Linked DNA regions of Homo sapiens: region 2 is linked to region 1. Evidence: fine-mapped expression QTL. A gene starts in region 1. The other region holds a variant in brackets. All regions are shown on one strand. Distances are from middle to middle.

Region 1 (11,896 bases):
GCTAATCATCCTGTTAGAAAGCATTTGAGGAAAAGCAGAAGAGAGGAAATTTCAGAGCTAGAAAGGGAACTCAGGATGCAATTACCATGCTGAGAGGATAGTTCTGGGAAACTGGAGGTGTCCAGAATGAACAAGAATATCAGCTGGAGGACTCCTCTGTGGAAAGCCAGGAGATGCTGGAGACGCTGGATATGCTGGCTAATCTGCAAGCCCTGAGGGAAGCATTTTCACCTGTGGTGGAAGGAAGCTCTGAGATAACAAGCAAAAACAAAAAGCTCAGCTGTTTCTCTAAGAACTAGGAAATTAAAGGCAAAAACTCAAGCATGGGCAGCAGTTGGAGGCACCAGCAGGAGCCACAGGCACGGTCAGAGCCGGGCTCAGGAAGGGCTCGCTGATGGCAAGGGAAAGGCAATGAAAGCACCCTGGGAAGAGGCTGTTTTGTGCTCTAAGTTTATGCCAAACCAAATGCAAAGACAAATCTGAAAAGTCACCCAGCTTCAACTTCTAATTTTCCATATGAAGAAACCAAGACCCTTTAAAGAGGAGTAATTGTGCAGTGGTTGGCTATGCATGAACGTGTTGGGACAAATGCATGTATGTGGCCACTGCAATAGACAGGGTGCTGGACAGGACAGGTAAACTGAGGAAAACCTGTGCACCTGCAGAAGAGAGTTTTAGAAGGAAAATCCACCTCATCAACCTTTTAGTATCGTCATCCTGGCAAGAAAAAATAACGGGGGTTAGTGGCAGTAGGAAAATGTAAGGCAAATGAAATCTTCGGTTTGGGGGCTACTTGGGGGAACATGTATTCCGTAACCCCAAATATACCTTCTATTTATAGCAGAAGTTGAAAGCCCAAATGCCTTTAAGGTAAGGTAAATATGTGAACCAGAAGAGTGCAGGGCAGCTGGGTGTGGTACAGACCAGCAAATGGGAAGGGTGGAAGCGCCACATAAAGGAATTCACATTCAATTTTTTAAAAACACTGGCCTTGCCAAAGGAAACGCAGAAGCTGGCTCCATTTCCACATCAGCAGTTTGCAAACACTGTTCTGTACAGTGTTAACATGTAAAACCACCATTAAACACAGTGTTAAAACATCATTAAACATCATACTAAAATATAAAACATCATTAAACACAGTGTTAAAGTATCTTCAATGGTTTAAGGCTAAATGAAACATATTTAGTCTAAAAAGGCCTGTGAAAAGTCAGTTTCATTTTAAAAGAGATCCCAGTTGAGTGGGAAATGAAAAGTCCTGACATTTTTCCATCTACATATTGGTAAAAGGAACATTTTAGCACTTATATGAGATGGTTTCTATCTCTTCCTTGAAAAAAAAAAAAAAGGAGATGATATCCTTTACTTCCAGCACCAAGCATAGGGTTTAAAACATTGTATTAATGGTACCTAAATGTTTATTGAGTGAATAAATAGGATTTCAAATAGAACAAAGCACTGGTCAGAGACAGAACAATAACCGAGTATCTTTTGAGGTTGTAAAATGAAGGGGGTGGATCGCCAGCTCTAAGTCTCCTCTTCTTCTTTGGGATTTATTTTTAACCCCCAACATCTTTGTACACAGCCATGGACTTCAGTCTTATGACCTCCCTCATCTGGTTGACTCCAGTAGAGATCAGAGAACATAGGCAGCCTCCCAAGGACAGTTTATTGCAGAACTCACTTCCTGCCAGGTGCAGTGGCTCACGCCTGTAATCCCAGCACTTTGGAAGGCCGAGGCGGATGGATCACCTGGGGTCAGGAGTTCAAGACCAGCCTCTCCAACATGGTGAAACCCCGTCTCTACCAAAAAATACAAGTTAGCCGGGTGTGGTGGCGCCAGCCTGTAATCCCAGCTACTCGGGATGCTGAGGCAGGAGAATCACTTGAACCCAGAAGGCAGAGGTTGCAGTGAGCTGAGATTGCACCACTGCACTCCAGCCTGGGCGACAGAGTGAGACTCTATCTCAAAAAAACAAACAAACAAGCAAAAAACCTCACTTCCTAAGTGGTATCCAAGCAGACTTAGTTCTCTGGGAATGGGGCAAAGAAACTTCAGGGAGCATGCTGATGATCCATCTAACTCCCTAACTTCGTGGTTCTTGAGAACAAAGAGGGGACACCCACCTCACAGAGTTGTGTGGGGTAAATAATGTTGTGTAAGTAAAAGGCTTAGTGCCTTTTACATACATGGTGGATATTATCATCTATTATGGAAATAAGTGAATAATTTTTTAAATGGACCTAATTGGGGGTGGGGGCATGGGATAGTTAGGACAACAAATTGAGAGGCCCAGAAAAAACAAAAATATTTTGACAGCACCTATAAATCATTCTGGAAAAGCTGGGAGTCGATAATTTTTTTAAAAAACGAAAATTCCCTACGTTCGAGTACAAATCCTTTTATATACATCTATACACTTAGGTATGCATAAAATTCCTCTGGAAGAACGGTTAACAGGCAATAGTGGTTACCTCCAGGGAGGGGACTTGATCTGCAACAGCAGCTGGGGAAAGGCTTCTAAATTTTTTTTGCCATGTTTGTTCTTGGAGAAATAAAGATTAAAAAAGTAAAATTTTTGCCATGTGTCTATATTACCTATTAAAAATTCATAATTCACTTCTAAATTTAATGCTACTAGTTTAAAATTTCTCCCAAGTTTTGCCACATTTTGAGGAAACTGAAATTGGGAACGTCGGCTTTCAGCCTTTATTGAGTGTTAGAGTGCTTATACCGCCTCCTAGTGCCAGATACCCACGACTGCGGCTGCTCCCTGCAGCCACCGCGGGGCTCACTCTAGACCTGTTCATCTCACCAGTGCTCACCAGGTGAATACCTTAACTAGTTAACGCATTAACTAACTAAACTGTTACCTATTCGGATACTCCAATGCCTTCAAGGTGTTTTTTTTTTTTAATCTAGGTACTGTGAAGAATGACTTTACCTCATGCCTCATTCTTGCTGACCCCAGATCACAGTTGGGGGTGGAGGAGCCAATGAAATAATAGATCACTTGAATAACAGTATATCCTTTCACCTTTTCATTTCTTTTTCCATTTTAAACTTGACATACTTAGAAGCAAAAGGACATTTTTACTTTCTCAGTTGTATTTCAAACACATGTCACTTTAGCCGTTAAATTTGTATTAATTCATCAGGTGTTGCAGTAACTTTCTTCTCTGCATGTGTTGAAATGGAGGTTGTTTGTCCACATACAGAATTTTTTTACATGCTTTTATTTGGGTAAAATTTTCTGAACTGTGTTTCAGATATTTCATTGTTCTGTAGGCTATTTACTGTCATGCTGTACATTTTTTTTTCTTTTGAGACAGAGTTTCACTCTTTTTGCCCAGGCTGGAGTGCAATGGCACAATCTCGGCTCACTGCAACCTCTGCCCCCAGGGTTCAAGCGATTCTCCTGCCTCAGCCTCCCGAGTAGCTGGGATTACAGGCGCCTGCCACCATGCCCGGCTAATTTTTGTATTTTTAGCAGAGACGGGGGTTTCACCATGTTGGCCAGGCTGGTCTCGAACTCCTGACTTCAGGTGATCCACCCGCCTCACCCTCCCAAAGTGCTAGGATTACTGGCATGAGCCACCGTGCAGGCCATGCTGTACATTTTTTAAAGTAATGTTTTTATTATTTTAAAATCAATGTATTCTCATTATAAAAATATTTTGGAAAATACAGTGAAACATGAAGAATAAAATAAAACAAGCCTTAATTCCGCCATCAATAGGTAACTACTGTTAACATCTCTATTCCCTCCAGTTCTTCTAATGTCTATGTTTTTATATCGTTTTCATGCTGAATTTTGAAGTCTTCAAAGTACATTTCTGCTTCCATTTATAAATGTTAAAAGTCTGTCCTTGTTAAATATTACAAACATATTCTTATTAGAAACTACTGTGTTATTAGAAACTGCAAGGCATGTTTGGGTATAGGGGTAGAAGGTCATTTTGAACATACCCGCCAATTCAGGGTTAGTATTGGACTCCTCTACTAAAGCCGCATTTGTGTCCCGTTATACTGGATGTATATCACACAGGAGATCACACTCCAGGCTGAAGATCTTCCAGGACTTCATCCCCTGATTCCATAATCTTGACGCCTTGGCCTTTGACAAATATCTGAGCATCGAATGGACTTCTCAGAGGCCTCTCTGGCAGCCTAAGTGGGCCATGGTGCATGATCCCAGGTGAGCGAGAGGACGGTCAGGGTCGGGGCAAAAGTGCAAGAGGCAAAAGGGACGCTAGGCAGGTTTGAAATCTGAGCGAGTGGCAACCTCGCTTTTTCTTATCTTACTTTTCGGTGGTTCCACCCATTTGGGTGAACAATCTGGATTACCTCCTTGGCAGGCCAGGTTCCCAACAGGAGGCGGGCCTGATGAAGGGCTGGTGGGCGTGTTCCCGCCCAAGGTCCGTGTTGGCCCGCGCGGTGGCTGGGAGGCCCTCCCCACGCCCAACTGCGGGTATAAAGAGGCAGGCTGCGGACTCGGAGCAGCTCGGGGCTGCGCAGCGGGAAGGCTCGCCTAGTCGGTCCGCATCCGTGTCGACCACCTGTCTGGACACCACGAAGATGCCACCCGTTGGGGGCAAAAAGGCCAAGAAGGTGAGTCTCCAGGGGACCCGAGGGCGCTCTCCTTCCCCTCCCACCTGCTCTGTATCCCAGCCTCTGGGAGCGCAGAGGGGCCCTCGGACCCTGCCTGGTACCCATCATCCTCCTACTCCCTCCCCTCCCTCAGCCTCAGACCAGAATGTGCTTCCAGAACTTCTCCAGCAGGACCCCAAGGCGCCTCTGAGCCTCCCCACTCCTGCCCCACGTTCAGAGCGCGCCCCCAGAGCGCCTCTGTCCCCTCCAGCCCCAGCCCAGCTTGGACCAGAGTGCGCCCCAGATCTATGTGATCCTTGCCTCTCAGACCCAAAGGCACCCTCTGAGCCCTCCCTGACGGCTGGGTGTCCCCAGAACTCCGAGCCTTCCAATATCTTCTGAATCTGGCACCCCAAGACCAGAAAACTCCCTAGAGATACTGCTCCTAGCCCCGCAGGCGCGATATCCCGTCCCCACGGAGCCCCTCCGCATCTGTGTCCGAGGCCGCCGCGAGCGCCCTCTGCACCCGGCGCGCCCAGAACAGGGAGGAGTGCACGGCGCTGGCTCCGACATTTCCCGCCTGGATCTGCACCGCGGGTGTCGGGGCCGCCTCCCCGCCGGGTTCTCGCTGCACCCAAGGCCCAGGCGCTGGTTGGGTGATTGCAGATTTTCACAGGCAATTTGATGTCCGTGATGACAGAAAAATGTCATCCGAAATGTCAGCCTCGAAAACATGGTTTAAGAAAAAATGGGCAGAGTGGCTGTAAGATACTGAGGAAGGGCTGTTGATGAAATTGTAAAACCCAATTCCAGCTCCAGATGAACAAGTCCATCTCTTGGCTATCCCAGTGGCTTGTTGGGAGGGGTATTTTCAGTCCAGACGGTAGGCCTTCCTCTAATTTGGGGAACGGATGGATAGATGGACTGACTGCCGTGGAATGAGACTGGACAGGTGGGAAGAGAGAGAGAAGGATGGAGGGAGGAGAGAATAAACTTGACCTTTTGGTCAAATGCCCAGTCCCAGGCCTGGCACGACAGAGGCCCCCGGAAAATGGTAGGGAGGCAGATGGGGCCAGGCCAACTGTATCCTCTGGGCTGTAAGGACAGTGAGAAAGGTCCAGCTCTCATCCCAGTGCCTGCCCTGCTGGAGAACCAGCTGAGGTGTGCCCAGTTTCTAAAGGGATGGCCTCCCAAATCAAAAAGACCTCTACACAAGGAAGAAGGTCAATTCGGTTACAGATTCTAAATGCAGCATCGTGGATGCATGTTGATGGCATGAGTGGGTGTTGAGATGGCAAAGGACTATGGACTATCACCAGTCAAAGGAGGGTGAGAATTTCGCCAGTCCCTAAATGTACTAAATGAATAGTCCACAGAGACTGGGAAGGATGATTCCTATAGATATAGATATTTTTTGTTTGTCCCCATTCTCATAGCCACGTAAGTCTAACTTATTCCCCAAACTCAAACTCAGAAAATCTAACATTTTAAAGAATTATCTTTGTAGAATTATCTAAGCAACAGATGAATGTAAGATGGAAAAAACAGTTTCCTAGTAACTTGTTTCCGTGCATATGTCAGTGTTAAAACAATATATGGACAATAACATGTCTACACATTTGAGTTTAAAATTAAAATAAATGTTACAAAGTTTGCACATGTTCATTATAAACAATGAGGGAAAGCACAAAGAACAGTGCCTGTTAAATTCTGGTGTATATTCTGCTAGTTTGTTGTTGAGGCAAATATGCACTTCTTAGACAAAAATGGGCTGATATTACATATACTGTTTTGTAATACTTTTTCACAAAATGGTATATTTTTTTCATAGCACATTCCACCTTTTAAAAAGTCTGTTTAGCTTGGGAACAGAAAATCCTGAAGTCTAGATAATTTTAAAATGCAATAGAATGTAAGAGATCATATTTCCAGAGGTAACCACTCAACAAGTGCATGAGCCACATAGTAATTGAATCGCCACTACCCACCCTGCCACCCAGCATCAGATCCTTAGCTATGCTGCACATTAAAATGCTGTGGTACTAAAATTTGAAAACACACACGTTCAATGGGAGCTGCTAACTGCCCAAATGTCATGAATTATTTTATCCAAATAAAAGTTAGTAGCAAGTCATATCTCATTTAAGTGACCCTTGTTATGTTTTTTATGTAACTGTGCTGGCAGTAGTATATATATATATATATTTATATATATGTATACATATATATATTATTGTTGTTGTTAATTAGGTCATAATCAAAGTTGCAGTTTTCAGATGTGACATTTAGATACATTGCAATCATGACAAATATTTGGATTTCAAAATGACGTGTGAGCCATTTATATTTTTGTTGTGCTTTGTTATCTTATGGGCTCCCATAAGATAACAAGGCTTCAACACTATGGCTTGAAAATGTTTTGATCTGAAAGGTATATTAGGGAACACACAGCATAATCCTACCACTTTGCTTCTGTCTGGTGAAATGTCAATTGTTTCCTCTCTCTGAGCACCAGCTGTCCAAATGGCATGGGAAGGGGCAGTGGAGGGGAAGAGAATGAAAATGAGGGAGGTTCTAAGAAGGTGGCAAGGAATTGGGATGCAAAATCCTGTGACTGCCTCTCACAGATTTCTGGAATCTTGTTATTATGTCAGCTTTTGTTTTATCCACTGTTATTGGTAGTAAGTGGAACACACTGGGTAAATACGTCCCAAGTTATTCCTTTACACTATACAGTTTTTTTCAGGGCTGTCCCACCACCCCCAATCCCATTTGAAATCAAATATAGATGTTATTTAAGCATAAAAGAGTCAGGAAGCCCTATGCTCCCCATCTGGAAAACCATGTATAAATTACTCAGGGACTCTGGGTCTTAATTTCTCATTTGTGAAATGAGAGAGAGATCTCAATTGAATTGAGTACTATTTATTTTTAAAGTCTATGATTCTTTGAAATTACAAAAAATCTATTAAACTAGAGAATTACTTTGTAATTCACAAAACCCTTTCAAAATACTTAATTCCAAAGTTATCCATAGAACAACACCAGGGTGATTACTGCACAGTATTGTAAATGGAATAAGTATGGAGATTGGGCTGAAAAATCATTCAACAAATACTTTAGTTGTCTCTTCCTTGTTCTCATCATAGAGTACAGCATGTGCACACTCATAACCTGGACTGTATAGCATAGCTACTGTTGTGGAAACTGAATTTTAACACCAAAGATAGAAGTCTTTGAGTGATTTGGCCACCTTTTCAGTCTTAAAATAAAATGGCTTAATAGCATTGCTGGGCACTGTGGCACGAGCCTGTAGTTTTGGCTGCTGGGGAGGGTGAGACTGGAGGATCTTCTGAGCCCAGGAGTTCAAGTTCCTCTGGGCACATAGTGAGATGCTGTCTCTAAGAAAAAAAAAAAAAAATAGCATTCTATGCCATTTCAACTTCTTTAACAATTTTTTAACCCTCTCTTTAGTTTGTTGATAGAGTAAGAAGACTAGTATTTACCATTTTAAGAATCTGTGCTTAAGTGCAGATTTGAGGCTTTACAACAAAATCTTTTCATTTAATCCCTCAGCAGACAGTTCTTCAAACACACCTCCCACGGTGTTCTTCAAATACTCTTTAACGTGTTAAGAAAGACCCCCCCACCCACAGCACATACAAAGGAATACACAAATGTTTATTTTATGAGCATTCTGGTTGTTTGTCTTATAGATAGCCATAAATGTATATATAAAATATACATTTTTCTCTGAAAATTCTAAAATAACCACACATCTCCAAGAATATGTTAGCAAAAGTAATAAAAATAGAAAATTATCTTAAACACTCAAGTAACTCCTTTTCCTCCCTCATCTGTAATTTTAGGGCATCCTAGAACGTTTAAATGCTGGAGAGATTGTGATTGGAGATGGAGGGTTTGTCTTTGCACTGGAGAAGAGGGGCTACGTAAAGGCAGGACCCTGGACTCCTGAAGCTGCTGTGGAGCACCCAGAAGCAGGTTGGTGCAGAGCTCTATTGTAAGTTCTCATAAAGGAGCCGGGTGTGGAGGCTCATGCCTGTAATCCCAGCAACTCAGGAGGCTGAGGTGGGAAGACCACTTGAGCCCAGGAGTTCAAGACCAGCCTGGGCACATAGGGAGACCTAGTCTCTCAGAAGTTTTTTAAAAATTAGCTGGACATGGTGGTGCACTCCTGTAGTCCCAGCTACTTGGGAGGCTGAGGCAGGAGGATCGCTTGAGCTATTTTATGCAAATGATTTTGTGTATCTGCAGCGCTTTTGTAATTTAGACTGAGTGGTAGCTAGAATTGATGGAAACCCCTGAAGAGTCTTCCTGCAAGCTGGACTTCACCTGCAACATTTTTATATATCTCATGCCTGGGCCTGACTTTTTCATGTTCTGGGCAAAAAGAAAGGAGTGGTTATGCTACAGGCCCACAATCCCCTGTCCAAACCACATTTTGGGGTCAAACATATCTTGGAATCCAGGAATCTGGGGATGTTAGAAAGTTAATACAGTACAAATGTAGCATATTATGTAACACTCCCAATGGGCCCTGAAGCAGCTCCCATTGAAACACATTAATACATTTTTGCATCAAAATACATGACTACCCTTACTAATTGAAACATGTTTATCAATACCTTCATGTTGGTTCAGGTCATATTTTGCCCCCAAATGGTTTTGCTGCAAACTTACCCAACTGAAGAAATACTTCAGAATTTTATTTGACCTTTTAGAGTTTGCTGTGGAATTTTAAAAACTTGCATTTCTCAAGCTAAATCTATAAGGCTAATCTCCAACTATGCCATGTACATATATAATCATGTATCAATGTACATTTAGCTTCTATGATTTTAAAATAAGTAATATAATGAGGAGTTAAGGCCATAAAATGAAGGTAATCAATTAGTATAAGCGACGTCATTGAGTAAAAGGGACTAGCCCTATTGTATTATGGGTTAGAGTAGGAACCTTGTGGTCAGGAAAAAGTAGGTGAAAGGATACTCAAATTACCAGCCTCATTCTCTTGCTAAAGTTTATGCCCAAAGTTATGGTTCTTGCACCCAGTGGAAGCAGCTTTAATTCAGCAATGAATTCAGGTTATCGGGGTCTGGAAGAGTTTGAGGAATCTGCCTTTCTGATAATTGCCCCCAGGTGACTCTAAGATGGATCATACTTAGAGAATCACTGCAGTTTTAGAAGCATGATGAATAATCAAGAGTGAGGAGTTGTCTTCAACTGTTTGGGATCACTGCCCTGTGGAAAAATCTGATAAAATTTTATAGACCTTCTGCACTGTAAAATGTATTTATACATAACAATTTGCACACATTTCCAGGGTTTTTTTCATGAAACCTCTGGAACTCCACCCAAGGACCATGTGAGTGGACTTCGTAGTTATAAACCATTTATTCCTAGTGTCCAGAAACCTAGTATATAGGCCTTTCAGCCCTCTCCAGCCACAGCAGCTCTGGGTTTATCTGATTGATATATGGAACTCCCTATATTTTTCATTGGTTCTGTTATTAATTAAAACAAGTTTGAAGCCCGCTAATTTAGGGATGCTTTTGAGGTCCCACTGAGAACTTTCTATGATTTAAAAAATCATGGAAAATCTTTGGCTACAAGCTTACAAATGCATTTTCTAAAATTTAAAAGCTTTTTTCACTTGTGTATTCATCTCTTTAAAAACAAAAACCAAGGTTTCTATGTTCCAGTTACTCTACTCTACTAGTCGTCTGGGAGACAAGAGATGAGTATAGACTCATCTCCAGCGTTAGCGCTGAGAGCTAAGAACTTCAGTGTCCTAGTAATTTCCTAGCCTGTCATATAGTTGCTCCTGGACCTTTGGATTTCATAAACCTCTGAAATTTCAAAATAATTTTCAGGAGCTGATATATTAATAGCATGCTGATTTCTTACTTTGCCCAGTTAATTCTCCTAACGAAAACAACCAAGTTTTTGTGAAATCCAAGTTTCACAGTCATTTTATAAAAGGAGTTTTTTTCCACTATCTTACAATGGCAGTTTTTGACAAGGCTGAAAACAAAGATGGGTTGGGGAAACTTAAAAAAAAAGATGCCTATGCCTCACTCCAAACCATTTAAGTCAGAATATCTGTGGATTTGACATTCCAATCCGTAATTTTAATTTGCAGGGGATCTAATGGGCAACCACAGCTTAGGACAGCTATTTTAAAACAAATGATAATTTCTTAAACTGAATACTTTTAGCTATATGGGGAAAAAATCCCACCATATTTCCTCCAGCTGATAAAACTTTGCCATTTGGAGGCCTCACGCCTGTAATCCTAGCACTTTGGGAGGCTGAGGTGGGCGGATCACTTGAGGTCAGTAGTTCAAGACCATCCTGGCCAACATGGCGAAACCCTGCCTCTACTAAAAATACAAAAAAATTACCAGGCGTGGTGGCAGGTGCCTGTAGTCCCAGCTACTTGGAAGGCTGAGGCAGGAGAATTGCTTGAACCCAGGAAGCAGAGGTTGCAGTGAGCCAAGATCACGCCACTACACTCCAGCCTGGGTGACAGAATGAGACTCCATCTCAAAAAACAAACAAACAAACAAACAAACAAACAAACTTTGCCATTTGGTATTCATCCATGGAACTGTGCTTGGAAATCTTGCTCCAATTCTTATTTCACCATGCTACCAGAATTATCTTTTGAAAACACTGTATTAATTACATCATCCAGTTGCTTAAAAACTATATATTTCCCTGATTCATCAACTCCAGCCACTCAAGGTACTTGTCATTCCCCCAAATGCCATGCCTGTTCCCGCTTTATTATCTTTGCTCAGGCTATTCTCTCTGGATGGAATTCCCTTCCCCACCTTCTCTGCCTGGCAGTAGCATTGAATTCTTCCAAGTGCAGCTCAAATGATTCCTCATCTTTGGACCTCCTTCGCCCCCTTGCCCCATGTCCTGGGTAGAAATGATCCCTTCTTCCTGCATAGCCCAACCATGCAGTGCTGTAGTCAGTTATTTCTGGACAGACTGTGAAGTTGTCCAAAGACAGAATAATGGATTGTTTATCCTTGTGTCCATGGGTGCCATCCACAAATACAGTCAATGAATGATAAACAAAATAAACAATGAACAAGATGAGCAAATACAGGAATATGAGCACCCCCTGCCCACCCATTCATCTAGTCATAGCAGGTTCACAGGAGTTTCCAAGAGACTTCAGATCTACCTCTCATCTACCCCTAAGATGTGCAAATGTCAAGCAACCAGAAATTCAAGCAGTTGTTTTCCTGCTTGTTTATCTGAGAGCCATTT
Region 2 (11,896 bases), 43 kb before region 1:
GGTGTTTGAGCCCCATTCCATATAATGATTCTGGTCCATTGTAGCTACTATAGCCAAAGAAATGAACAAGTAGCTTCTTTTTTTCAAAGAATCTAGAGAACAGGTCAGGTTTGGTGATGCACACCTGTAATCCCAGCACTTTGGAAGGCCGAGATGGGAAGATTGCTTGAGCCCAGGAGTTCAAGACAACCCTGGGCAACATGACGAAGCCCCGTCTCTATAAAAAATACAAAAATTATCCAGGCTTGGTGGCACATGCCTATAGTCCCAGCTACTTGGGAGGCTGAGGTAAGAGGACTGCTTGAGCCTAGGAGGTTGAAGCTGCAGTGAACCATGAGTGCGCCACTCCACTCAGACCTAGCAGACAGAGTGAGGCCCTGTCTCAAAAGGAAAAAAAAAAAAAGATTTAAAATTGTACAGCTGTCTAGGGTACTTTACCATGAATCAAGCTTGTAGGACTGGAAGTTGCTCTAGATGAGTCTGAGTGAGAGGTGAGTGAATGTGAAGGCCTAGGACATTACTGTACACTACTGTAGACTTTATCAACACTGTACATTTAGGCTACTCTAAGTTTATTTTTAAATGTATTTTTCTTTTTTCAATAATAAATTAACAGCTTACTGTAACTTCATTATTTTATAAACTTTTAAATTTTTTTGATTTTTGTAATAACAGTTTAAATGCAAACACATTCTACAGCTATATAGAAATATTTTATTTCTTTATATCCTTATTCTGGAACCTTTTTTCTATTACAAAATATATATATTTTTTTAACTTTTCAAACTTTTTTTTTTCCAAGACAGAGTATTACTCTTTTGCCCAGCCTAGAGTACAGTGGCTTGATCTTGGCTCACTGCAACCTCCACCTACTGGGTTCAAGCAATTCTCCTGCCTCAGCCTCCCATGTAGCTGGGATTACAGGTGTGCACCACCACACCCAGCTAATTTTTGTGTTTTTGGTAGAGATGAGGTTTCACCATGTTGGCCAGGCTGGTCTTGAACTCCTGACCTCAAGTGATCCTCCAGCCTTGGCCTCCCAGAGTGCTGGGATTACAGGCATGAGCCACTGTGCCTGGCCTCAAACTTTTTTATTAAAAACTAAGACACAAACACACACATTAGCCTAGGCATACACAGGGTCAGGATCATCAATATCACTGTCTTCACACCTCCAAATCTTGTCCCACTGGAAGGTCTTCAGGGGCAATAACACATACACAGCTGTCATCTCTTTTTCTTTTCTTTTCCTTTTTTTTTTTTTTTTTGAGACAGCGTCTCACTCTGTCACCCAGGCTGGAGTGCAGTGGCGCCATCTTTGCAAATTCCACCCCCAAGGTTGAAGCGATTCTTGTGCCTTAGCCTCCCGAGTAGCTGGGATTACAGACACGTACCACCACGCCCAGCTAATTTTTGTATTTTTAGTGGAGACGGGGTTTCACCATGTTGGCCAGGCTGGTCTTAAACTCCTGACCTCAAGTGATCTACCTGCCTTGGCCTCCCAGAGTGCTGGGATTACAGGCATGAGCCACCATGCCCGGCCAGAGCTGTCATGTCTTATGATAACAATGCCTTCTTCAGGAATACCTCCTGAAGGACCTGTCTGAGCCAATTTTACTGTTAACTTTTTATTTTATAAGTAGGAGTATACTCTAAAATGATGATTTAAAGTATAGTGTAGTAAATACATAAACCAGTAGCACAGTGATTTATTATCATTGTCAAGCATTATGTACTGTATGTAATTGCATGTGCTATAGCTTTATGTGACCGGCAGCACAGTAGGTTTGTTTAACCAGCATCACTACAAACACGTGAGCAATGTGTTGCATATGACATTATGACAGCTATGACATCACTGGGTGATAGGAATTTTTCAGCTCCATTATAATCTTACGGGACCACCATTGTATATGTGGTCCATCATTGACCGAAACATCATTATAAGGCACATGACTATACATATATGTATATTATAATATGTATATTCTATGTGTATACACATTTTAGAGTAAATTGTAGGTATCATACCCAGTTACTTCTAAATATTCTTTTGCTAGTTTGGTAAGAAAAAGGACATTCTCTTACATAACAACAGTACAGTTTTCAAAGTCAAGAAATTTAACATTGATATACTATTATCTATAGTCCATATTTAAATTTAATCAATTATTCCAATCAATTTATAGCTACTTTTTTCCAGTCAGAGATCAAATCCAGGATTCTGTCTCTTTAATCCCCTTTAATTTGGAACAGTTCCTAATACTTCCTTTGTGTTTTATGACCTTCACATTTTCGAAGAGTACTAGCCAGTTATTCTATTTTATTTTTTTTTTAGATGGAGTCTTGCTCTGTTGCCCAGGCTGGAGTGCAGTGGCACGATCTCGGCTCACTGCAAGCTCCACCTCCCAGGTTCATGCCATTCTCCTGCCTCAGCCTCCCAAGTAGCTGGGACTGCAGGCGCCCACCACCACGCCCGGCTAATTTTTTTTTTTTTTTGTATTTTTAGTAGAGACGGGGTTTCTCCATGCTAACCGGGATGGTCTTGATCTCCTGACCTCGTGATCCGCCTGCCTCAGCCTCCCAAAGTGCTGTGATTACAGGTGTGAGCCACCACGCCCGGCCAGTACTAGCCAGTTATTTTATAGAACAGTTCTTACTGTGAGTTTGTCTGGTGTTTCCTCATGATGAGACTTATGTTATGCATTTTTGGCAAAAACATCATGAAACTGATGTTGACTCCTTCCCAGTGTATATGATTAAGAAGCGTATGATGTTGGTTTGTCCTGATATTGGTGTTGTTTCTGTCTGATGACTTGCTTAAGGTGGTGTCTGTCTGATTTGTCTAGTAAAGCTACCATTTTTTCCTTTGTATAAGTAATAATGTGAAGTGTTACTTTGAGACCATGTAAATATCCTGGTCCTTATCAAACTTTTACTGAGTGGCTTTAACATCTATTGATTATTTCCTAACCCCATCATTCCTATTATATTTAATAGTTGGCATTCTACTGTAAGGAAGTAATTTTCTTTCACCCTTGTTTGTTGGTTGTTTATATTAACATGAATTTATGGATATTTATTGTTTTCAGTGGTTTCTAATCCATTACTAGTCATCATTTATTTGAATACCAAATTGTCCTAGATTTGGCCAGCAGGAGGTTCTTTCAGTTGACTCCTGTATGCTTTTGACATGGCTACATAATTCTTAGAGCATGTCCTTATTTCCTGGTGCCACAACATGTTTCAGCAGTTTTGTTTCACCGGTTTTTAGATGACTATTAATGTCTCTTTGTATGCTGTGTGAGAAAAAAATAATGTACATATGACCCAACTACTTTGGACGGAAATCCATTTTTAAACAGACTGGGCATATCTTGTACTTTAGTTGAAACCATTATAGTGGTGACAAAAATAATAATCTTAAAGGTTCTTTTTTGTGTGTTCAAAAGAAAGAATTATTTCTTTCAGGACAGTGGTCAGTTGAAACAACAACAACAAAAGAGAACTTAAGATCAGGAAACCTGGGTTTGAGTCCCCAATCCAACTGAACAGCTATTTTAGAGAAATTTACACAAGGGTCTCAAAGTTTTCTCATTTGCAAAACGGAGCTGTGAAGGTTCTGTTTGGCAACATATGATAAAGCATTATCAAATATATAGTATTTCCTCGGCCCAGCATGCCATAATAGGTTTCAGACTAGGTATAGTGTTTTTGATTATGTGGATAACTATCTTAAAATCCTTCTGAATGTAGTCGAGGATGTTTATAAGAGTATTTGAAATAAAACTTAGGAGCCATGCAAAAAACCCAGGTCAGTTATCTTCTGTATTAGAAATGATAAGCACAAACTGTATGCTTGTTCAACTGCTTTCCAAAATAAAACATTTTTTGATAGTTTGAAATTGGGTATATAAAGAATATGCAATTGAAATAACTCAACTTTTGGGTGTTTTTGTTTTTGTTTGTGAGATGGAATCCCTGTCGCCCAGGCTGGAGTGCAGTGGTGCAATCTCGGTTCTCACTGCAGTCTCCGCCTCCCAGGTTCAAGCGATTCTCCCGCCTCAGCCTCCCAAGCAGCTTGGACTACAGGTGCACACCATGACACCCAGTTAATTTTTGCATTTTTATTAGAGACAGAGTTTCACCATGTTGATCAGGCTGGTCTCAAACTCCTGGCCTCAAGTAATCTGCCCACCTCAGCTTCCCAAAGTGCTGAGATTACAGGCATGAGCCACCACACTCAGCCAAAATATGAATTTTTTGGATAGTCTTGAAATTTGTATCTTATTTATCTAATCAGTTTGTTTGTTAAATTTCCATTTTATTTTGCACTGGATTAAAAACATCATTATTATAAATATTTTTGCATTGCTTTACAATTTACAAAGCACTTTCACATGCATTCTCTTATTTAATATTCACAGCAATCCTGTGAGTTATATAGAGCAAAATTAGTATCCTCATTTTATAGATGAGGAAACTGAACCTCAGAAGTGTAAGGTCACATTCTGTGTAACAGATGGCGCAGGAACTGTGAGTTGGTGGCTACTGCATTCCCAGTACTGGAGACAAACCTAGCACATCACAACACCCAGTAAATATTTGTTGAATGGATAGATGGAACTCAAAAGCAGGTCTTCTGATTCCAGAATTTCAGGTCATAGGACATAAAATAAAATTCGAATCAACTCATAATAATGTTGAGTGATGCTGATAAACAAGCCTTTCCTGGCAACCAGGAATAATCTACAAATATAAGAAGTCGAAAGATGTTCAGCATTGCTCATATTTAAATACAGACCAATCAAAACAAGGACATGCCATTTTTACCTATCAGATTTAGCAAAGATAACAAAATGGGCTATTCTGGGAACCAGGGAAGATGTGGGAAA[C/A]AGACACACACTGGTGTGCCGCATGCAAACTCTTGCCACCCACTTGGAGAATGTGTTGCTGTCTTTCAATCTTTCAGATGCACGTAACCTTTTCCCTAACAAGTTCACCTTTAAAAACTGTTGCTACCGACTCCCATATGTACTCAAAGATAGATGCCTAAGAATTTTCACATGCACGTTATTTGCAGTAATAAACAACCAAAAACCATTTAAATGTTAATGAATAGACTAACGATAGTGTAGAATATTGACAGGATGGAAAACTATGCAGCCATTAAAAGGAACAAGGCAAGTCAGTGTGTGCTGATATGGAACAATCTCCAAGATATATTGATAATTGTAAAAAGCAAGATGTCAAAAAGCCAAAGGAAAACCTATACTGACCTGTGTTTGCCTATGCGTAGACTGTCTCTGGTTAGATTCAGAAGACACTATTAACAATTGTTCACTGGCCAAGGGGATTGGGGCAGGAGAGACTTTACACGGGGAACCTTTGGATACTGTTTCACTTTATAATTAAAAGATAATTCGAGAAGATATATCAAGGCCTATTTCTTGGAGGCCAGAGCGCTCCTAACCCCTGAGCCTGCCTCAGCCTCTGGCTCCCACCCCCGCAGCCGCCCCGTCGCCTCTGAGCAGGACGGGGCCCCACTCACCCTTCCCGGCCGCAGACAGAGCGCGGGCGCCCGGGGGAGCCCTGCAGCGGGCAGCTCCGCAGCAGGAGGCCCCGCAGCAGCTGCGCGCCGGGACGGAGCATGACTAGGCCGAGGCCGAGGGCGCAGGCGCCTGCTCCGAGGCCAGCGGGCAGCCTGAGGCCGCGGGGCCGGCGGGGCGGGGGTCGGATCCTCCCCCCGGGCTGGGGGCGGGCTCCTAGACGGCCGCGCGCCCGGGAACCCGGCGCCCACAGAGCCGCGGCACCATGGCACCTGCTGGACGCCCGGGGGCCAAGAAGGTGAGTTTCGTCCCCTCGATCCTCGCGGAGCTCCTGGCCGCTGGGCTGCGAGCGACTCCGTTCACACCCGGCGTCCATCCCTAGCCAAGCCCTGGGGCCTCGGCAAAACACTTGGACGGGATGGCCCTGAGCCTCAATTTTCCCCTGTCACGGGTTGGTTAGCGTTTATGGAGCCCTTACTCGGTGCCTGGCGCTGCACAGAGTGCTGTGCTCAAGTTATCTCCTCATCTTCACAATTATCCCCATTTCACAGGTGAGGAAACTGAGGCTCGGCGAGTCAGGCGACTAGCTCAGGGTCACGGGTCCAGCCCCGCGGGGAGCGAGGATCAGAAGTCTAGCTTTCGGACGCATGTCGCGCACACATTTTCTTCCCTCAACCGACCCTCGCCCGCAGCTCTTTGGGCTAATCCGTCCGGGAACTCTTCGGACTGTCCCCTCGCGTTTTGGAAAAGTCAGCAGCCTGGCCAAGCAGCCTGGCCTTGCGAGTCGCCGGCTGGTCTGAAACTAGTCCTGGGCAAGGACGCCCCCAGAGCTGCGGTGCAGGGTGGAGGGTAGGTGGGATTCGCTAGCACCCCTCAACCTCCTCTCACCCGGTGGTCCCCAGCTCCTGGCCCCTTTCCTGGTCTGGTCACCAGATGTTGGCTTTATGCCCAGCCATTTCTACGTCGAGTATGTGTGGGGGTGGGATGAAGGAGTGACTAAGCAAAATTAGGAAGGGCATGAGCTTGGACGAAAGACATCCCCAGGACCCTTCAGAGACCCCCACCCGCTCCAGCCCTGTCATTCAGAATGGGAGGAAGGGAGGAGGGGCAGTTTATGCGTGGAAATGTGCACCACCGAGCTATTTATACTAAAAAGTTAGAAACGACCAAGATACTCTGCAATACGGGATTCTAAATAAATTAAGGTTCATCTACTTAAGTTATTAGACAGTTAAATAACTTAGTATGAGAACCAGCTAAGTGCCTTGGCAATGTTAAGTTGCAAAAGGAAATATATCACAAACTGATCCCAACCATATACAAATATTTATATACACACTGTAAGGAAGGACACAATAATGGTAATAGTTACACAAGATGTGGAATATTGGTTTAAAAAGCATGTTTTAGGATATTTTTTCAGGTTATAAAAGCAAAATGTGAGCATTGAAAGAATACAGTTAATAAAAATAATCAAAGAACATTGTGCTTTTTTCTCTCAACTTTCTCTAATGCTATGTTCATCTTTACAGTTCATATTTTTAAACGTTTTTAAAATGCCCTGTTTTTGTTCAGTGTCTTTGGGGCCTCTACTGTTACAACACCAAGATTATCACACACTAATCCATGTGAATGTGTACCTGGGAGTTAAGGTGTTAATGGGAAGGAACTAATCTCACCTCTCTCCTCAGCTAGCAGGTACATTTTAAGAATTCATTTAATTGCCACAGACAAGACCTCCAATTAGGTCTTAAATCCAAAAGAGCAGTTCTGCTGGCAAATCTAGGAAAAGGGGAAGTTATTTTAGACAGACTGGGTTTTTCTGATCACCTCCTACTACACAGTGAAGTTGATCCCCACTGAGTATGAATAGAGATGTCTTGAAGCCAGATCTTAAACCCAGAGGTCTTACGTAGTGATATCTGCAAAAAGGGGGCATAAATGCACCCTAGAGCTCGCTGTCAGATGCAAGGCAGGTTCACTGCCAAACTGATGGGGAGGAGGGAATGAAAATATAAATGTACTGCAAAATTAATTTACAGGGTTCCTTATTTTACATGTTCCTGTCTTTATAATTTTACAGTTGACTTTAGATCGTACTAGTATAATGGTGAGGAACAACACACACTGGGGCCTATCGAAGGGTGGAGGGTGGAAGGAGGGAGAGGATCAGGAAAAATAACTAATGGATACTAGGCTTAATACCTGGGTGAGGAAATAACCCATATAGCAAACCTCCAATGATGCACATTTACCTGTGTAACAAACCTGCACATCCTGCACATGTACCCCTGAACTTAAAAGTAAAAAAAAAAAAAAAAAAAAAAACTAAAGAAGGGATCATACTGGTATAGTAATTAATTGAGGTAGTTAGAATAGCAGTGAAGGAAGGGCTAAAAGATGCTCTGATCTCAAATCTTGATAACTTAGTTATTTTGCTAATGGCTATGTAGAAAAATGGCAAATTGGCCGGGCACAGTGGCTCACACCTGTAATCCTAGCACTTTGGGAGGCCGAGGCAGGCAGATCATCTAAGGTCAGGAGTTCGAGACCACACTGGACAACATGGTGAAACCCTGTCTCTACTAAAAAATACAAAATTAGCTGGGCATGGTGGCATGCACCTATAATCCCAGCTACTTGCGAGGCTGAGGCAGGAGAATTGCTTGAACCCTGGAGGTGGAGGTTGCAGTGAGCTGAGATCGCGCTACTGCACTCCAGCCTGGGCGACAAGAGTGAAACTCTGTCTCAAAAAAAAAAAGAAAGAAAAGAAAAGAAAAATGGCAAATTTAAAATGGTGGACAAACATCCAGATAACAAATGAAAATGTCCTCCCTTTACTTGGTTTCATAAAGACACAGTCAAAATATATACTACAATTTTCTTAAAACCTACCTAATTGTCTGCTAAAGAGTAACATTTTTTCTTCTTCAGGACAAAAATTCTAGCATATGCAATACATCTGACATTTTCAAAACAGTCCTGTTTATTTGCTAATTCTTGGCATAGTTTCTTAAGTGTCTACTCATTTTAGTTGTTATATGTGGTGGTAGGGATATAGACCAATAAGATATGTCACCTGCCCCCAAGCCTCTTACAGTCAAACTGAGGTGACAAGTAAGTAACCAGATACTGCTGTACAGGGGGATGCATGAATGAAGGATCTGTGAAGTTAAGCAGGACACAAAAGGGGTATAATCACAGGTGAGACTGGGTCAGTGAGCCTGTGCTCTGGTAGCAATGGAAGACAGTTCAGAGTAGGGCTGGAGAGAACTGGAGACCATTTCAATAATCAAATGCAGTGAGGATGGTGGGGCATTTGAGAAATGTGTAATACACTTGGCATAACCCTGTGATAGGTTGGATGTGGGAGGTGAGAAGCTAACCTACAACATCTGAATTCTGTGCCAATGTTTTCCCTCGACAATTGTTTGAGTAAATTTGATTCTTTTTTTTTTTTTTTTGAGACAGAGTCTCACTCTGTTGCCCAGGCTGGAATGCAGTGGCACAATCTCAACTCACTGTAACTTCCAACTCCCAGGTTCAAGCTATTCTCCTGCCTCCACCTCACAAGTAGCTGGGATTACAGGCACCTGCCACCATGCCCAGTTAATTTTTGTATTTTTAGTAGAGATGGAGTTTCACCATGTTGGCCAAGCTAGTCTCAAACTCCTGACCTCAAGTGATCTGCCTGCCTCAGCCTCCCAAAGTGCTGGGATTACAGGCGTGAGCCACCGCGCCTGGCCTAAATTTGATTCTTAACATGGTGAACCTAATGAAGTGTATGGGATTTTCAGGAAAACAGTTTGTACACAGTAACTGTACCTCTGACTTTCTCTTCTGTATTCCTGTGTAGCATTTATTGGTCACATTCTGCTGTGATTATTTGTTGATTTATTGGCCTTCCCCAAAGTAGCCAGACTTTGAGCTTGTGGAGGGCAGAGACCTTGTCTTATTCTGATGTTTATCCCACTTGCCCACAACTATACCTGACATGTGGAAGGTCTCAATAAACGTCCAAAATTTAAGGCCTTTTTTATATTTCAAAAGTACAAATTGAAAAGAGTGAATTGCATTTGATGCAGGGAGGAGAAAGAAAGAGATGAGAATCAGTAAATATTAACATTTCTTCTGCATTCAGCTAAAATTCAGCTTTAGATATAAAATATGGAAAAATAACCAGAGTTGAGAGCTCTCTCTGCCAAAATAGTGTTTATGTTTAACATAGTTCACACAGCTGGGCTCCATTTGCCTGCCCTCCAAGTGCACAGTAAAAAGATGCTGTAGGTAGAGTGACCTGGTATTTACCTCTAGTTAAACCCCTTCTGATGGACCTTCTTGCACTGCAGAGGAAAGAAAACTAACCACTTTGCCAGACTCCTTTGCAGCTAGGATCTGGATAAGAACTAGCATCCCCAATCAGATGCACCAGTATGAGTCTGGGAAGGTGGAAGCATAGCAAATGTGGCCATAGTGCAGCATTCCAGGGTCACGTGAGGGGCAGCTGAGGTCGCTGGAGCAGCCTCCTTCTCCCTATATGACAGCTGTGTCCTGAAGCCAACAGTTCAATAGTGGCTTCTCTTAGTTGTGGCAGAGGGTGCAGCCCCAGCCGGCCAATTCAGTCATGTTTTTCTAGGGGTCATTTCTGGAAGCCCAGTGTAAATTTTTTATGTACCCATTTCTCAATATTAAACTCCTTTCTGCTTAGTCAGAGTGGTTTGTACTTCTGCAGCTAAACTGAACATGGGGAGAAAGCTAGAATAAGCCCCCTCTCTAGTCATGCCATTCGATGGAGATTAAGAGATTATTCAAGCCATATTTGACCTCTCATGTTTGGTTCCATACTGTTAACAGGACTGTCCTGGGAGGCTCTGTGGGAAGATCCTCACGTCTGCTTTAATTTCTGGTTGCTTTTATTAGATCCAGGATTGACCCAGCTAAGGACAAAGACTCCTGTAACCAAGATCAAATTAGCTTCCCTCTTATTCTTTATTGCCTTTATGGCCTTCCAGCCTCCTGGGAAAAGATTGAAGAAAATAGTATATCAAGCAATATGGCCAAAATGTGTTTGGGATCTCTTTGTTCCTTGGTATCCAAGGAAGCTCGCTCCTGACACCTGGGTGGGTCACTTTGTGTGGGGAGTAAGCAAAGGAGAAATAGCAGATGCCAGACACTAGAACAGAAGCAGTTTCTCTCCAAAATCTGTTCCCCCTCCTTCCGAAGGATTAGCGTTGGAGCTGGACACATGGACATTCACTGATGATACTTCCTGGCTTCCCTTGCAGCAAGGTAGAGCCATGTGGCTAAACTCTCACGCAGGAAATGTAAATGTCAATGAGATGAGTCACTTCTAGGTCTGAGCTAAAAACTTTAGGATGAGCTTTGCCACACTGTTTCCTCATCGTTTGAGACAGAGTATGAACGTGACTCTGATCCAGTTTCCCCCATGCTGAGGAGGACAGTACCCTAGGGCTGGGTTGGCAAACGCTTTCTGTAAAGGGTCAGATAGTAATTATTTTTAGCCTTGGGGGCCATACAGTCTCAGTGGTAACTACTCAACTCTGCTACTGTAGTGGAAAAGTGGCCATTAGACAATATGTAAATCAATGGGCAGGGTTTTACCTAAGACTGTTTTTACAAAAACAGGTGATGTGCCAGATTTGGTCTGTGGGCTGTCATGTGCTGACCCCTGCCGTAGGGAATGGCAAAGCAATAAGATAAAAGGACTGTGCAATTTGGTGCACACTCTGTAAAAAAGAGTCCCCCACAAACAGTGGCTTTCCTCTTACAGAGGAAAAAGAAACTACTTTTATTTAAAGCCACTGTTGTGGGGGCCTCTTTTTTACACAGCTTAGTTTTACCCTACACCCAACACGTAGGCCAGTAAGCTGCCTATGTACCCTGCTTGATGTCTCCCTTGGATTCAGGAACTGAGGGGGTTTATGTTGATTTCATAGAACAGATAAGACTAGTTAAAAGAGGCATCTGAGGCTTTTCTCCCTGATCCATTCATTGCTTTGTGTCCAGCTATGGGCAGGCCTGAAATGAACTGGCCTATTATCAATAAAAGGTTGCATCTTCCACTGATGCAGCCTACAAAAGAGGGATCAGGATTGCTGTGGGGAGTTGGGAGGAGTGGGTGGTTTGCATTGCTCAGGGAAGGCATCTCTGAAAAGGTGACACTTGACCAAAGACCAGAAAGCAGTGAGGGGATGACCCTGCAGGCACCTGGGGAGATGTGCTTTAGACCAAGTGAAATGGGAAAAGTTCCCTTATGCCCCTTGCAGGGTGTGTGATGGAGGCGTGGATCACTTCTTCAGCACCCCACAGCTTAAACCCCTAGGGGG

The links. PIP is the estimated chance that this variant, and not a neighbour inherited with it, causes the effect.
Region 2: its variant is the best candidate, but not a certain one, in a credible set for the expression of BHMT in thyroid (GTEx, PIP 0.72).

The regions. Positions count from the first base shown.
Region 1 is chr5:79,107,307-79,119,202 of GRCh38, forward strand. BHMT (betaine--homocysteine S-methyltransferase) reads left to right here and starts at 4,503. Exons shown (of 8, transcript NM_001713.3): 1 at 4,503-4,612; 2 at 8,461-8,593. The coding sequence starts at 4,580. It overlaps LOC124901012 (a long non-coding RNA gene), which reads right to left. Exons shown (of 2, transcript XR_007058837.1): 2 at 7,501-7,992. RefSeq lists an enhancer at 4,829-5,673.
Region 2 is chr5:79,063,969-79,075,864 of GRCh38, forward strand. It overlaps DMGDH (dimethylglycine dehydrogenase), which reads right to left and starts at 5,706. Exons shown (of 16, transcript NM_013391.3): 1 at 5,552-5,706. The coding sequence starts at 5,652. BHMT2 (betaine--homocysteine S-methyltransferase 2) reads left to right here and starts at 5,799. Exons shown (of 8, transcript NM_017614.5): 1 at 5,799-5,847. The coding sequence starts at 5,815. The variant C/A (reference allele first, on the strand shown) is at 4,896.